4 linked regions of the Homo sapiens genome follow. The protein of the gene in region 1 interacts with the protein of each later gene in a pairwise test. Each region holds a gene or a part of one and is shown on either strand. Other genes may lie near its edges.

Region 1 (3,500 bases):
CCATGTTGCTCAGGCTGTAATCTGCTTTTAAAGGTCAAATTTAAGCTCCCGACATAGCGATTCTTAAAATATATATGTGTATATATATACACATATATATATGTGTGTGTGTGTATACATATATACATATATATGTGTGTATATACATATATGTGTATATACATGTGTATATATACATGTATATGCATGTGTGTATATATATACATATATGTGTGTGTGTGTGTGTGTATGTATATATATTTTTTTTGCTAACCTGGAAATAACTCCCTAATAATTTAGAGTAAAATACCACAAAAATTTTAGAACTCCAATGGCTGTCCTATTACCAGAAGCCAAAACCAATCGGGAAAACCACAAGGCACAGAGTCCGATATTGTCACTGTCGACTATTAGTGACTGTTGTAAATAAACAGCGGAAAGGACCCAAGTTACATTTATGTTCAGCCTCTGAACAAAATGTTACCTTTTTCACAGCAAGGAATATTGTGTACTAAGCACTTTCATGAACATAAAGGCGATGCTTTAAATCATCACTGCTAACCACAGAAACCAGGGCACCAAAGCTGCTGGGCTTGGAATGCATTTCCCCTTATCCTTACCCAGCTTGGGCACTATGTTTTTGACCATGAATGCTTCCCAGGAGCCAGGAGTGAAGACATCCTTCCAGGGCTGGAGGATGAGCTTGGCAGAGGAGTCGCTGGGGTGCCACTTCTGCAGGGCGCTGGACAGCTTACTACGGATGGGGGAATAGAGTGGCTCCAGCCGTGCCTGCATAAGGGGCAGCCATGGGTGGATCCAAGAGTGGATGGGAACAGTGTCTGTGAGCGGGTTCCAGTTTTCCACCTGCGAAGTGGGGAGGAGAAACAGTTCATGTCGCCTGTGGGGCAGTCACATAACACCCCTGTGTGGCTAAAGGCAAGAGCTGCCCCTGGAGGAGGCCCTGTGCTCTCTGAGGCCCACAGTCCTTTGTACATTGCCAAACAAATATGCCCATCCATTTGATTACATCTCAGAAACAGCACAATTCTAATTTTAGTGACAAAATCAAGAAAATGAATTCCCTCCTGAGGGTGGCTTGGGGGAAAAAGTGCTGAGAAAAAGGCTGGAATTAACACTATAGGTCAATAGTTGTGTTGACAAATTCCGTTAATTCCAGGCGTTTTAACAGCACTGAGATAATGAAGCCACAGACTGAACAAGTCCCTGTGATTAGTGATGACGACTGTTTCCCATGACTCTCATCCCACCTCCTTTTGCAGCTTGGGGAAGATGAGTTGGTCCAGTATGTTATCTAAGATCCACACAGGAATAATGTGCACCCAACTATCCAAAAAGTCCACCATCGGGTCACAGTTCCTTGGCTGCCACTGGGTGACAATATTTCGAACAAAAGGCATCCAGACTTCCCATATCAACCTATGGGAGAAAGGCAGAGGACAGGCTGGTTAATTACACTGACTGGTTTCAAAGTACACCACCACCACCTGCCTCTCTAGAATCAGGAATAAAAATGCAACAGCATGGAAATCCAATCAGAGGAAACCATCAGGCCAGTCACCATACTGGCCAGACTGAGCCTGCCTCTTCCTTGTTCTCTTGACTCTCCTCTCAATCTGAGGCCTCAGTCTCCTAGGTAGTGCCCATCCACCTGGCAGAGCTGCTTTAGGGTCACAAGGGCCTCTTCCCAGGTATCAAGTGCTTTCCCACCTATAGGCTTCTATTCATGAGCTGATGCCTCTCACCCTCTTATCACAATTTCAACGTCACCTCCCCTAAGACCTCTGTGCCAACCCCCGTTCCAAGTAGGTTGCTCCTGCAGTTCTCTATCGCTGTACCTGGTGTGCATCCTGCCTTTATTTGTTCACTACCTTACTTCCCATCTGCTTTTTTTGCTGTACTGTAGACAGAGGCTGTCTGCTGTGCTCCTAGGGTAAGCCCAGCACCTAGCACAAGCATGATACGCAACAGACATTTGACAAGTGTCAGCTGAATTCATGGCCAAATGTAATTGTACAACCACTATGGAAAACAGTGTGGAGATTCCTTAGAGAACTAAAAGTACAACTACCATTTGATCCAGCAATCCCACTACTGGGTATCTACCCAGAGGAAAAGAAGTCATGGCTGGGCACGGAGGCTCACGCCTGTAATTCCAGCACTCTGGGAGGCCAAGGCAGGCGGATCACGAGGTCAAGAGATCGAGACCATCCTGGCCAACATGGTGAAACCCTGTCTCTACTAAAAATACAAAAATTAGCTGGGCATGGTGGCGAGCGCCTGTAGTCCCAGCTACTCGAGAGGCTGAGGCAGGAGAATCGCTTGAACCCGGGAGGCAGAGGTTGCAGTGAGCCGAGATCGTGCCACTGCACTCCAGCCTGGCGACAAAGCAAGACTTCATCTCAAAAAAAAAAAAAAAAAAAAGTCATATACGAGAAAGATACTTGCTCACACAAATTTACAGCAGCACAATTCGCAGTTGCAAATATGTGGAACCAACCCAAATGCCCACCAATCAACAAGTGGATAAAGAAACTGTGGTATAAATATAATGGAATATGACTCAGCCATAAAAAGGAATGAAATAATGGCATTCGCAGCAAGTTGGTTGGAATTGGAGACTATTATTCTAAGTGAAGTAACTCAAGAATGGAAAACCAAACATCTTATGTTCTCACTTATAAGTGGAAGCTAAGTTATGAGGATGCAAAGGCATAAGAATGACACAATGGACTTTGGGGACTCGGGGAAAGGATGGGAAGGGGGTGAGGGATAAAAGACTACAAATTGAACCAGGCACGGTGGCTCACGCCTGGAATCCCAGCATTTTTTTGGAGGCCAAGGCGGGTGGATCACGAGGTCAGGAGATTGAGATCATTCTGGCCAACATGGTGAAACCCTGTCTCTACTAAAAATACAAAAATTAGCTGGGCGTGGTGGCGTGTGCCTGTGATCCCAGCTACTTGGGAGGCTGAGGCAGGAGAATCGCTTGAACCAGGCAGTTGGCGGTTGCAGTGAGCTGCGATCACGCCACTGCACTCCAGCCTGGTGACAGAGTGAGACTCCATCTCAAAAAAAAAAAAAAAAAAAAGACTACAAATTGGATTCAATGTATACTTCTCAGGAGATGGGTACACCAAAATCTCACAAATCACCACTAAAGAACTTACTCATGTAACCAAATACTACCTGTTCCCCAAACCCTATGGAAATAAAACATTTCAAAAAAATTAAAAAAAAAAAATTCATAGCCAAATGAATTTAAATTCCTAAAGCACTGTCAGCATGAGCAGAGAATTAATCAAGGCCAGCACTGCTGCCTTCCCCCACCTTCAGCAATCCTTCCCAACCCCCCAGGAGAAAGGAGCTGGGGTACAGAGCCCTGCTCTGTGGTGTACCTGTGAAAGGCATCTGCTGAGAGGTCCTGTCCGCCATGGGACAAGAGCTGGTCATTCTCTAGGAGGCTTTTCCACTTAGAGATGATCTCGGTGCCATAAGTGCAG
Region 2 (3,101 bases), on another chromosome or scaffold:
CAGAATCCTTCCTGGGTTCCAAGTCGGCCCCTCATTATGGGGGCCCTGGCCCACGGTTCCCTGGGAGCTCTTCCTGCCTGTCGCTCGGGGTACATGCACGCAGGACTTACCGGCCCCCAATCCTAGCCCTGCCCTTGGCCTCCTTCCCTGAGACCTGGCCAGAGTCCCCCTTCACTGTGGCTGCTTCCAGGCAGCTCTGCAGGGAGGTCCAGAGACGGGGCTGACCCCATCCTTAGACTCCCAGGCCCCGTGACCCCTCTCCTGATATCCTCTTCCACCCCAGGGGACTCAGGGAGGAGGGGTCTCTGGATGTCTCTTTCCTCCCCTTGGGCTCCCACAGTGCTCAGCCACACCTGGGGTCTTGCCATGAATGAGTTCCCCCAGGCGCCTACCTGTGGGCCTTAGGCCCCGCCCAGCATTCCAAGGAGAGCCCCCAGCCCTCAGGCGTTCCTGCCACCCTGGGCCACGGGGCCCACTGGAGTCGTGGTATCGGAGAGAAATGAGTTTTTCCTTTTATTTGGCTGCTGCCCCTGCCTGCCTCTCCCGGATCCTGCCTCTCCCGGATCAGGCTTGGGCAGCAGCGCAGGCAGGGAAGGGGACTCCGCACTCATGTGCCCACGAGACCACAGCAGGCCCCACCCGCATTCCCACGCTCCCACACCTCCTGCCTCAAAGCCCTCACTCTCCTAAAAGCATCGAGAACACACAGGGCTCGGAGGCGCAGGAGTGCGAAGGCGGCATTCCAAGACGAGTTCGAGTCCAAGATGAGTTCAGGATCCTGAGCCTTTCTGGCAACTGCCTCCCTAGGCTGGGATGTGGGGGCGCAGCCCCAGGCCCCGGAGCTCCTTCTCTCTGCCCCAGGCTGGGATGTGGGGGCGCAACCCCGGGTCCCGGAGCTCCTTCTCTCTGGCGAGCTCCTTCTCTTCCACGCCAGGTCTCAGCCGGTCCAGTTCTGCTCTGTCCAAGACGCCTTTGCAGTCCCGGGTTTTATAGTCCAGCTGCCAGCCCGGCCTCCCTGCAGCCCAGCCGGTGCCTCGAGGCCGGTCAGGAGCGCGGATGGCCCATCCCGGGGGCGGATCGCAGGTAGCCCCGCGGCCAGGGAGGCGGCCCGGCAGAGGAAGCCCCCGGACAGCGGCGCCAGCTTCCCCCGGAGGCCTGTGCTAGGCCCGGCCCCTCGGCCACCGCACTGGGCCGTGCCAGGGGCGCGTGCGGGGGGCACGAGGCGCAGCGGGGCGCGGACGGCACCGAGGGGCGGGCGGCGTCTGGGCGCGCGAGGCTGGGCCCTGCAGGCGGCGGGGGGCTGGCGCCTGTGTCCCCGGTGTCCCCGCGCGCGGCCGGGCCGTGGCACTCCAGGTGTCCGCAGGGCCCGCGGGGCGCGGGGCTGGCGCGCAGGACCAGGGAGAGCGCGGCGATGCGGTGGATGGCCCTGCGCAGCGTGGCGATCTTGGAGAGCCTCTTGCCGCCCAGGTCGTGCCGCAGCGCCCGGCGCAGCGCGTTGAAGGCCTCGTTGTAGTCTAGGATGCGCTTGCGCTCCCGCACGTTGGCGGCCATGCGCCGCGCCTTGGACCGCACCGGCCGCGCGCGCCTCCTGCCCGCCGGCTCCTCCGCCTCGCCCCGGCTGCAGGAAGCGCCGTTCGCCCCCAGCACCCCCGAATCGCCCCCGGGCTCGGGGCAGGGGCCCCCCAAGTCCTCCGCAGAGTCCTCGGCCCCCTTCCGCGCCGTGAGGCCTAGTCCTGGCGCGCCCCGCAGCATGGCCTTCCCGGGCACTCGCCCTCTGCCCCAGCCCCGGCCCTCTGCCCTCTGCCCTCTGCCCACTGCCTTGGCCCGGCTCGCGACGCGGACGGTCCCCGGCTCCTGGGGCTGGACACTCCCGAGACAGGCCCCTTCCAGCTGGGCTTTATGGCACCACGCGGCGCCCCGCCCTCCCGTCCATCCATCTCCCTCCTCCTGCTTTATTATCGGCCTCCAGGTAGGTCGGCGGGGGAGGAACCGAGGGGAAGAAGGAAAGCAAGGAGGGAAGCTTGCAGGTTCTTGTAAGCGGGGACCAGACGGGCAGCCCGGCCACGCTGCCCCGGGGACCTTGCCCTGCCTAGCTCTGGGGCCGCTGTGGGGTGTCTGGGTTCCACATTCTTCCTCCCCATTCCCAGATAAGGTGCTAAGTTTGGCTTCTAGCAGGAGAGCTGATAGGAATAAAAAGAGGCAGAGGGCCGGGCACTGGGGCTCACGCCTGTCATCCCAGCAGTTTGGGAGGCCGAGGCGGGCGGATCACTTGAGTTCAGGAGTTCGAGACCAGCCTGGCCAACAGAGTATATAAAACCCCGTCTACTAAAAACACAAAAATTAGCCGGGCGTGGTGGCAGGCGCCTGTAATCCCAGTTACTCGGGAGGCTGAGGCAGGAGAATGGCTTGAGCCCAGGAGCTGGAGGTTGCAGTGAGCCGAGATCGCACCACTGCACTCTAGCCTGGGAGACAGAACGAGACTCCGTCTCAGAAAAACAACAACAAAAACAACAACAAAACCTTGAAAGTTCTTGTCAAGTCCCGTGGGCAACCACAGAGATGTCACTGAGGAAAAGCATGAGTGTCCCGGCAGGACTCATATGGGAGGCGCAGGGCCCTGCAGGTAAAGCTGACCCAGAGCTTCCGGCTTTTTCAGCTATGGAGGGCGGCTGGCTGCAATTGGGGTTCGGGTTTTGGTTGGGCCTGACTCTCCCTCCACTGCCCTTTGACTCCCCTTCTGCAGGCAGAGCTGGGATGAGTCAGCAGCAGAGGGTGACGGGGAAGATCCCTTTGCAGCCCTGGGTCCACATCAGGGGCATCTTTGGGGTCCAGAGCCCTCGGGCAGCCCCATCTTGTGACACAGCCCTGCCAGGTTATGAACTCAATGAGCAGCCTCTGTCCTCTTCCCCCAGGGATTTGCATTTGAAAGAGGGTCTCAGAAAAAAGATGATGTTTATTCCCAAAGAAAGACCCCCAGTAGAATTTCCGGCATCCACAGCTGAGTTATTTGGAGCGCCTGAAGGCCACTCATTCCCAGTCACAATCCAAATGCCTCTAAGATGCCAAGGCCTATGGCATTGGAATGGGTGTGTGGTTCACAT
Region 3 (3,500 bases), on another chromosome or scaffold:
GAATAAAATTTTAAAGGTAGTGTCAATATAAATTCATACCAAGATTAGCTGAAGGGAAAGTAACTCCCATAAGACATCTCATTTTGTTTCCACTGAGCCTGTTCTGACTCCTTGAAATGGCAGAAACAGGGGTAATAACAATATCTTTTATCATGTATTACCTTATGCTTTTCAAAAAAAGTTTCAAAAACACAATAAATATTTGAATAAATGCACTTAGATAATCCCAAATCAGAGTCAAGAAAATATATAAAAGTTAAATTCAAATGATAGAATTTGTCCATTTTTCCATTCAAATTACAATTTAAGTCAAGTAAAGAAAGACATACAAAAGCTGCATGATTAGGAGGGAGTGCAGCGCTCATCCTCCTGTCCCCAAGGCCGATTAGCCAGCTGGGTGAGAGATGAGATCATGAGTTCTGGGCCAATGAGTCACTGCCCTTCACCATTGCCCCCAGACACAAACAGCTGCAGGTCTCCCAAAGCGTGTGTCCACCCTACGGAGCTGCCACCCTACAGAGGAGAAAATGTGGGTGAAAGTAAGCAAAAGCAACATCACAACCATGAAATTAACTCAGTGTTCTACAAATGGAGAATTATATATCTCTTTCTGAATGAAGAGCAGCATATTTCATACACAGTGTGGAAATAAACATTGAGTAAATTGTTTTCAAAATTGTCATACCTAGGAGTAAACCCAGCAATAGGTAAATTATAAATTAAAGGAGCCCTTCTTTCTTCCTCCATCTATCCATCCATCTAGACTGTAAGGTATTTATTAGGCATCTACTGGTGCTAAATACTTCTTAATGATTTTAGTACACCCCGATGTGCCCAGTCCTTCTGATGAAACAATATCCGGAAACTTCATGAGAATGAATTCTCTTTTTTCCACGGGACTATAGGCTTCTCAATGGTGTAGACAACACTATCTATTTGAATTTACATATCAATTTACACATATATATACAAACATAAGTATATATATTTTTTATATTCAAGAGCTATCATAGTATCTGACTATATAGTGTATGCATCTCAATAAATATTTAAACTGAACTGAACTTCTGAAACTCCTGATTGGTTTCAAAAGATATAAAAATAATAGACTTGGTTAATCTATGCATTGGATTAATACATCCTAAATATAATTAAGAGTTTGGTCTAATCCAGTGAGAACAGAGTAAACCATAAGTGTACTACATAGATGAGGGAGTAAGGAGATAAACCAGAACTGAAACCTTGAGTTGAAGAAGTCTACATTGGAGTCAGAAAAACAGGTTATATCCATAACAAACTATAACAGAAGAAGGAGAGAGCAGACGATTCCAGAGAACCAGGGAAGGCTGAGAAGCATTATTGATTTGCTAGGTGGTAAATGAGGGATGACATTTTGATGCGTTCAGATTGGGAGCAAGAAAGACGGATTCTGTAATATTCTCGGTGGGCAGAATAATGTGCATAATAAAAAGGCCAGAGTGTCCGTTTTAAGTGTTTAAGGGCCAGTGTATGGAAAGCTTGAAAAGAGATGCTAAGAATTTGCTTGGGGGGAGATAATGAGTCTCTGAAAGCCCCTTCCACAGAGGAACAATAACCCAATCAGATCTGTGCTTTGTGAGGACTGTCCTGGCAGCAGTGTGCAGGCCTGATTGGAAGGAGTTACTCAACAGAGACATAATGACATAATCCAGTATCAGAACTGGGAAGACACAGGAAGGGCTGGAACACCTTCTGAAGAGGCATCCTAGGTGTGGCTGTTAAGCTCTAAGGCCTAAGAATACCAGGCTCCCTTAGTTCTCTCTAGACTGGATGGCCCTTGAGAACAATCTACATTTTTGGTTTTGGGGGAGTTTTTTCATTTTTTTTTTGAGACAGGGTCTTGCTATGTTGTCCAGGCTGGAGTGCAGTGGCTATTTGTAGGCACAAGCATAGCGCACTGCCACCTTGAACTCCTGGCCTCAAGCAATCCTCCCGCCCCAGCCTTCCAAGGAGCTGGGACTATAGGCATGCACCACCATGCCTGGCACTCTACATTTTTAAGTACCCTGCAATGTACAACACTGTACTGTGTATACAGTAGGTGCTAGTGTTTGTGAATGAATAAATAAACACAATGGAAGAAATTAATGGATAAGTTAATGTCTCTAGGAGATAATTCTATAAACTAAGGAACACAAAATGATTAATAGAGTCGAGGCAATTTAAGGCCCCCAAATCTACTGTTTAAATTGAATACAGATGCTCTATCCCCAAGGACAGTGTCTCACATTTCATTTTGCTTGGCCTGCAGCTATAACACAAGACGCTAGGGAAACATTAAGACTTGTACTGAAATACGCAAACTTTTTTTCTTCAGAAGATTTGTGATCCCAAAACAGCTCTTGCAACTCTAAGTTTCCAGTGTAGCAGAAATATTAGAACCCCGTTTTATCTCTGTATTTACTTTTTTTTTCACTTGACCATTGTAAAATAATCTTCCTTTTCCTATCAGTGTTGGAGTAAGATGAGGCATGCTTTCACTACAAATGCAAAACACGCACATTCTCCTGTGTTAAAAATAAAGTCCAATAATCAATCCACTCACAAACCAAGAGATGACAGGTACAGGCCAGGCGCGGTGGCTCACTCCTGTAATCCCAGCACTTTGAGAAGCCGAGGCAGGCGGATCACTTGAGTTTAGGAGCTCAAGACCAGCCTGGCCGACATGGTGAAACTCTGTCTCTACTAAAAATACAAAAATTAGCTGCACGTGGTGGGGCATGCCTGTAATCCCAGGTACTTGGGAGGCTGAGGCAGAAGAATTGCTTGAACCTGGGAGGCGGAGGTTGCAGTGAGCCAAGACTGCGCCACTGCACTCCAGCCTGGGCTACAGAGCAAGACTCCGTTTCAAAAAAAAAAAAAAAAAGATGACAGGTATGAAAAAGAAAAGTTAGGTAGGCGTACATGTCACAAAATGCAATTTCAACTCAGATTCCACATTCAGGACACAACTTACTCATTAAACTTTAGATATTTCACCTTTCAACCTGTGAAAGCGATTAGTCTCCATGCAAGGCCACCTGTCAAATGCACGTTTCTACTCCTGGTAGATTTGTTCATCTGGGCGAACATAATTGTGTTAATGATCAATATCAATCCTAGACATGTACAGCTCTGGGGAGTTAAAGTAGCTACGACATTCGGGCAGATGACTGCAAAGAAGCTATCTAGGCTTCCTGAAATGGAACCACCTGGGCAAGGGAAGGAAGCAAAATGTGGAAGCCCAATGAGCAGGGAATAGGAAATTTACACAGTAGCTCAAATCCTGCACAATCCCAATCCTGCAGGACAACGATCACAGCATCTTAGCACTGGAAGGGTTCCCATTCATCATCCAACGCAGCCCCCTCCCCAGTGCAGAACCCTCATGACAGTCACCCTAGAGTCATCCACACTGCCCTACATACTTCCAATGACAAAATGCTCTCTGCCTTTCGGGGTAGCCTATTCCATCAATGGAT
Region 4 (4,076 bases), on another chromosome or scaffold:
ATGAATGTGTATTGAGCATCCACCATGGGCAATGCTGTGAACCAAACAGGCAGGCCACAGGGAGAAGCCGACTTATGGAGGCAAAAAAAAAATCAGAGAAGGCCTGGCTGAGCAAGTGACATTTAAGCGGACTTGAGGAAGAGGAAGTGGGCCGGGCGTGGGGGCTCACGTCTGTAATCCCACCACTTTGGGAGGCCGAGGCGGGTGGATCACGAGGTCAGGAGTTCAAGACCAGCCTGGCCAAGATGGTGAAACCCTGTCTCTACTAAAAATACAAAAATTAGCCGGGCGTGGTGGCAGGCGCGTGTAATCCCAGCTACTCGGGAGGGTGAGGCAGAGAATTGCTTGAACCCGGGAGGCAGAGGTTGCAGTGAGCCGAGATCCAGCCACTGCACTCCACCCTGGACGACAGGGTGAGACTCCGTCTCAAAAACAAAAGAGGAGGTGAGCAGCCCCAACTTGGGCCAGAAGCCTAGACTGCTGCTGGGAGGTCCCTGATCCACCAGAGCGGAGCCTCCTGACCCATCCTCACGAAGTCCTTGCCATCTCCCTTCACCACCATCTTTCCCCAAACACTTCCAGCCCAGCTCCCAACCCCACCCCCTGCCTGACCCACACCCAGTTCTCAGCTTCCCAGCATCCCAGTCTCTCTGTCCTGGATATCGTGTGATGTCCCCGTTGCACAGGGGGGAAAGCCGAGACCCCAGAGGGAGAGCAGCCCCTATGGCCAGAAGCCCTCGGATCCGGACGTCGGGGGCTCTAAACTGAGTAAATACATAGGAAACTTCTCCGCTAGGTTTTGCAGGATGTTAAGAACAGGTCCCACCTTGCCTAGGGCTGGGGACTGCCTCGCAGGACCTTAACCCTAGCAACCCACCTCCGTCCCCATGGCAACCGGGGCGGGGCCCGACCCGGATCCGCCGGTCGCCCCATCCGGCAGCGGCTGGGAGTCTTGCCTTCAGAGAGGGAGGAGGAGTCCGCGCCTCTCCTACTGGCCCTTTAAGAGGCTCCGCCCGGCAAGTCCGCCACTCGCTCCCGATTGGTCCCGAGCGCGGCCGAGCGCAGCCGAACTTGACGCACCGCCCGCAGCCTTCCTTACCAACCTCCCACGCGACTCAGCAACCTCCCCAACCAATCGCCGGCCGGCGCGCCGATCGGTATCTGCATGGGCTCGCCCGGGGGGAAGGTCTCACCCAATGGGACCGTTCGCCGAGGCCTTCATTAGCATGCCGGGGGCGGGGAGGGGCGGGGCGGCCGACGGGGGCGGGCTGCGGGCGGTTGGTTGGAGCGTCGCGCAGTCGGGAGGTCCGGGAAAGTTTCTTTGGAGGTGAAAACAGCCGCGGAACTCCGGGCCCTGAGAGGGGGCGGGGGTGCAGGGGTCCCAGGGCCGGGCCGGGGTCTTTCCTGGCCCGGGGGAAACCGGCCCAGGCCTCCCGGGGGGGGCAATCGCCCAACAAAGGATTCTTGGGGCGCCCGCCCTCGAGGACTTCCCTGCCCCTGGATCCGGCCCCCCCAGCGCTCCGGGCCCGGCATCCCGGGGCTCTCCATCGCGGGGTACCCCAGTTCGCGGTCTGCCATCGGGCAGCCCGGGCGCTACTCACCTCCGCCCGCGTCCGTGTTCCAGGTCCGGCCCGGAGCGGCCATGTCCCACGGCCCCAAGCAGCCCGGCGCGGCCGCCGCGTGAGTGCACTGATCCCCTCCCCACGCCCTCGCTACTTTCCCGGCTGCAGCCCTAGCTCCTGAACCCCTGACCCAGTCCCTCCCGCCGGAGTCTTGACTCCCCCACCTGGGTCAGGGGGCTTCTCCCTCCACCCAATTCTGCACCCCCCACCTCGGCCTCCAGTCCCTCCCAGGAGCCCCGCTTGTCCCACCTTCCCCGGATACTGACCCCATCAGACCCTGCCTCCTCGGGCTCATGCACTCTCGCTGCAGCCCCGCCGTCGGGGGTCAAAACGCCCTGGGGTGGGCTTTTGGGGGAGGGGAGATTCTTGGGACGGGGCTGACCGCGGTATCCTTGGCTCCAGGCCGGCGGGCGGCAAGGCTCCGGGCCAGCATGGGGGCTTCGTGGTGACTGTCAAGCAAGAGCGCGGCGAGGGTCCACGCGCGGGCGAGAAGGGGTCCCACGAGGAGGAGGTGAGAGTCCCTGCGCTGAGCTGGGGGAGGCCCCGGGCTCCCGCCCCAGCCTCGAAGCCCCGCCCCAGGCTGGATTTGAATTGCTTGTGGCTCCGCCCACAGCCCATTTTCCTCTGGAAGCTGAGACCCCGCCCCGTGCCAGCTGCCACGCCCCTGACAGGTCCTCTGCCACTCTAAGTCCAGGCCCCGCCCACCGCACAATGCCAGCTCTGCCCACTCTAAGGTCCCGCCCACTTCCACTCCTTGGGGGCGGCACCCTCCCCTTGGTCCTGTGGGCCCGTTCTCCAGCAGAAAACCACGCCCACCAAGCAGAGGCCACGCCCACAACCGAAGTCAACGCCAACCCTGTACTCAAACCTCGGCCCATAGTTCCTCAGATCCCCTCACCCCTGGCCAGGGATCCCTCTAACCCACCGTGTCCCGACTGCTGACCGGGCCCTACCTCCATCTTTTCCGGGTTCTTCCTCCCAGCTAGGCCCCGCCCCCATCCCCGCCCATACGCGTTAGGCCCCGCCCATGCCCCTCTGAGCCCTGCCCCAGTACGCCAGGCCCCCCTCCCAACGACGCAGCCCGGTTCTGCAGCCGGTGAAGAAACGCGGCTGGCCCAAGGGCAAGAAGCGGAAGAAGATTCTGCCGAATGGGCCCAAGGCACCGGTCACGGGCTACGTGCGCTTCCTGAACGAGCGGCGCGAGCAGATCCGCACGCGCCACCCGGATCTGCCCTTTCCCGAGATCACCAAGATGCTGGGCGCCGAGTGGAGCAAGCTGCAGCCAACGGAAAAGCAGGTGGGCGGGGCGGGGCGCCGAGCAGGGCTGGCGGGGTCCACGGACTACCCCCCAGTAGCCCCGACCCCCAAAGGATTCCACGTGCAGGGTTTTTCCTTCTTCCTGGAGAAATGCCCACCCATAACCAACTTTTTTTTTTTTTTTTTTTGTGAGATGGAGTCTTGCTCTGTTGCCCAGGCTGGAGTGCAGTGGCGTGATCTCAGCTCACTGCAACCTCCGCCTCCCGGCTTCAAGCAATTCTCCTGTCTCAGCCTCTCAGGTAGCTGGGATTACAGGCGCGTGCTACCATGCCCTGCTAATTTTTGTATTTTTAGTAGAAATGGGGTTTCGCCATGTTGGCCAGGCTGGTCTCGAACTCTTGACCTCAAATGATCCGCCCACCTCAGCCTCCCAAAGTATTGATATTAAAGGCGTTAGCCACCGTGGCCAGCCCATGACCAGCTTTTGGGGGCGCGGCTAGCAAGAGGCAAGACAGATTGAAAACTGGATGACCAACAAAGATATGTCTAAGAAGTCAGGATGGGGCCTGGATTTTTTGCGAAACCCGATTTTCATATCCTGTTAGTTTAAAAATTGCAAAAACATCACGGAAATGTAACAAAAGCCATCACTGCTTTGCATCCCTGTAAGTGAGATTTCAAAGAGAGAAACGGGTGCGGGAGGGAGTCCAGGCATCCGCATACGCTGGAGGTTGGGTTCCTGCCCATGACTCTGGCGTCCGGGAGTGGTTTGTCAGGGCTGGAGGTGGGGAAGAGTCCGGGGCATGGGAAGTGAGGTGGGAGCTCGGAGGTCCCTGAGCAACAGGCTGAGGAGCCGGTTCTGTCTGCCTGGAGGGAATAGGGAGCTATAGAAGGTTCAGGAGAGGGGAGGGTGCTGTGAAAGCAGAGTGATAAAGACTGGATCCTGGCGTTGGAGGCTTCCCCTGCTTCAAGCCTTCTGGTGCTGCCCCCCAGCGGTACCTGGATGAGGCCGAGAGAGAGAAGCAGCAGTACATGAAGGAGCTGCGGGCGTACCAGCAGTCTGAAGCCTATAAGATGTGCACGGAGAAGATCCAGGAGAAGAAGATCAAGAAAGGTGGGAGGGGTCGGGCGCGGTGGCTCACGCCTGTCATCCCAGCACTTTGGGAGGCCGAGGCGGGTGTATCACCTGAGGTCAGA

Evidence for each region. Proteins that work in one complex are often made in the same cells at the same time.
Region 2: the proteins of TFIP11 (region 1) and BHLHA9 interact in binary tests that used the Homo sapiens proteins (3 or more experiments, as listed by UniProt).
Region 3: the proteins of TFIP11 (region 1) and DISC1 interact in binary tests that used the Homo sapiens proteins (3 or more experiments, as listed by UniProt).
Region 4: the proteins of TFIP11 (region 1) and HMG20B interact in binary tests that used the Homo sapiens proteins (3 or more experiments, as listed by UniProt).

What each region holds. Positions count from the first base shown.
Region 1 is NC_000022.11:26,495,474-26,498,973, forward strand, and holds part of TFIP11 (tuftelin-interacting protein 11), read right to left. Parts: coding exon 3,396-3,500; intron 1,417-3,395; coding exon 1,248-1,416; intron 844-1,247; coding exon 600-843; intron 1-599. UniProt on the Homo sapiens protein: Involved in pre-mRNA splicing, specifically in spliceosome disassembly during late-stage splicing events. Intron turnover seems to proceed through reactions in two lariat-intron associated complexes termed Intron Large (IL) and Intron Small (IS).
Region 2 is NC_000017.11:1,269,215-1,272,315, reverse strand, and holds BHLHA9 (class A basic helix-loop-helix protein 9), read right to left. Parts: upstream 1,873-3,101; 5' UTR 1,753-1,872; coding exon 1,045-1,752; 3' UTR 501-1,044; downstream 1-500. UniProt on the Homo sapiens protein: Transcription factor, which play a role in limb development. Is an essential player in the regulatory network governing transcription of genes implicated in limb morphogenesis.
Region 3 is NC_000001.11:231,633,290-231,636,789, reverse strand, and holds part of DISC1 (disrupted in schizophrenia 1 protein), read right to left. Parts: intron 1-3,500. UniProt on the Homo sapiens protein: Involved in the regulation of multiple aspects of embryonic and adult neurogenesis. Required for neural progenitor proliferation in the ventrical/subventrical zone during embryonic brain development and in the adult dentate gyrus of the hippocampus.
Region 4 is NC_000019.10:3,571,668-3,575,743, forward strand, and holds the start of HMG20B (SWI/SNF-related matrix-associated actin-dependent regulator of chromatin subfamily E member 1-related), read left to right. Parts: upstream 1-1,276; 5' UTR 1,277-1,327; exon of another isoform or gene 1,328-1,624; 5' UTR 1,625-1,642; coding exon 1,643-1,680; exon of another isoform or gene 1,681-2,024; coding exon 2,025-2,133; exon of another isoform or gene 2,134-2,150; intron 2,151-2,715; coding exon 2,716-2,919; intron 2,920-3,872; coding exon 3,873-3,993; intron 3,994-4,076. UniProt on the Homo sapiens protein: Required for correct progression through G2 phase of the cell cycle and entry into mitosis. Required for RCOR1/CoREST mediated repression of neuronal specific gene promoters.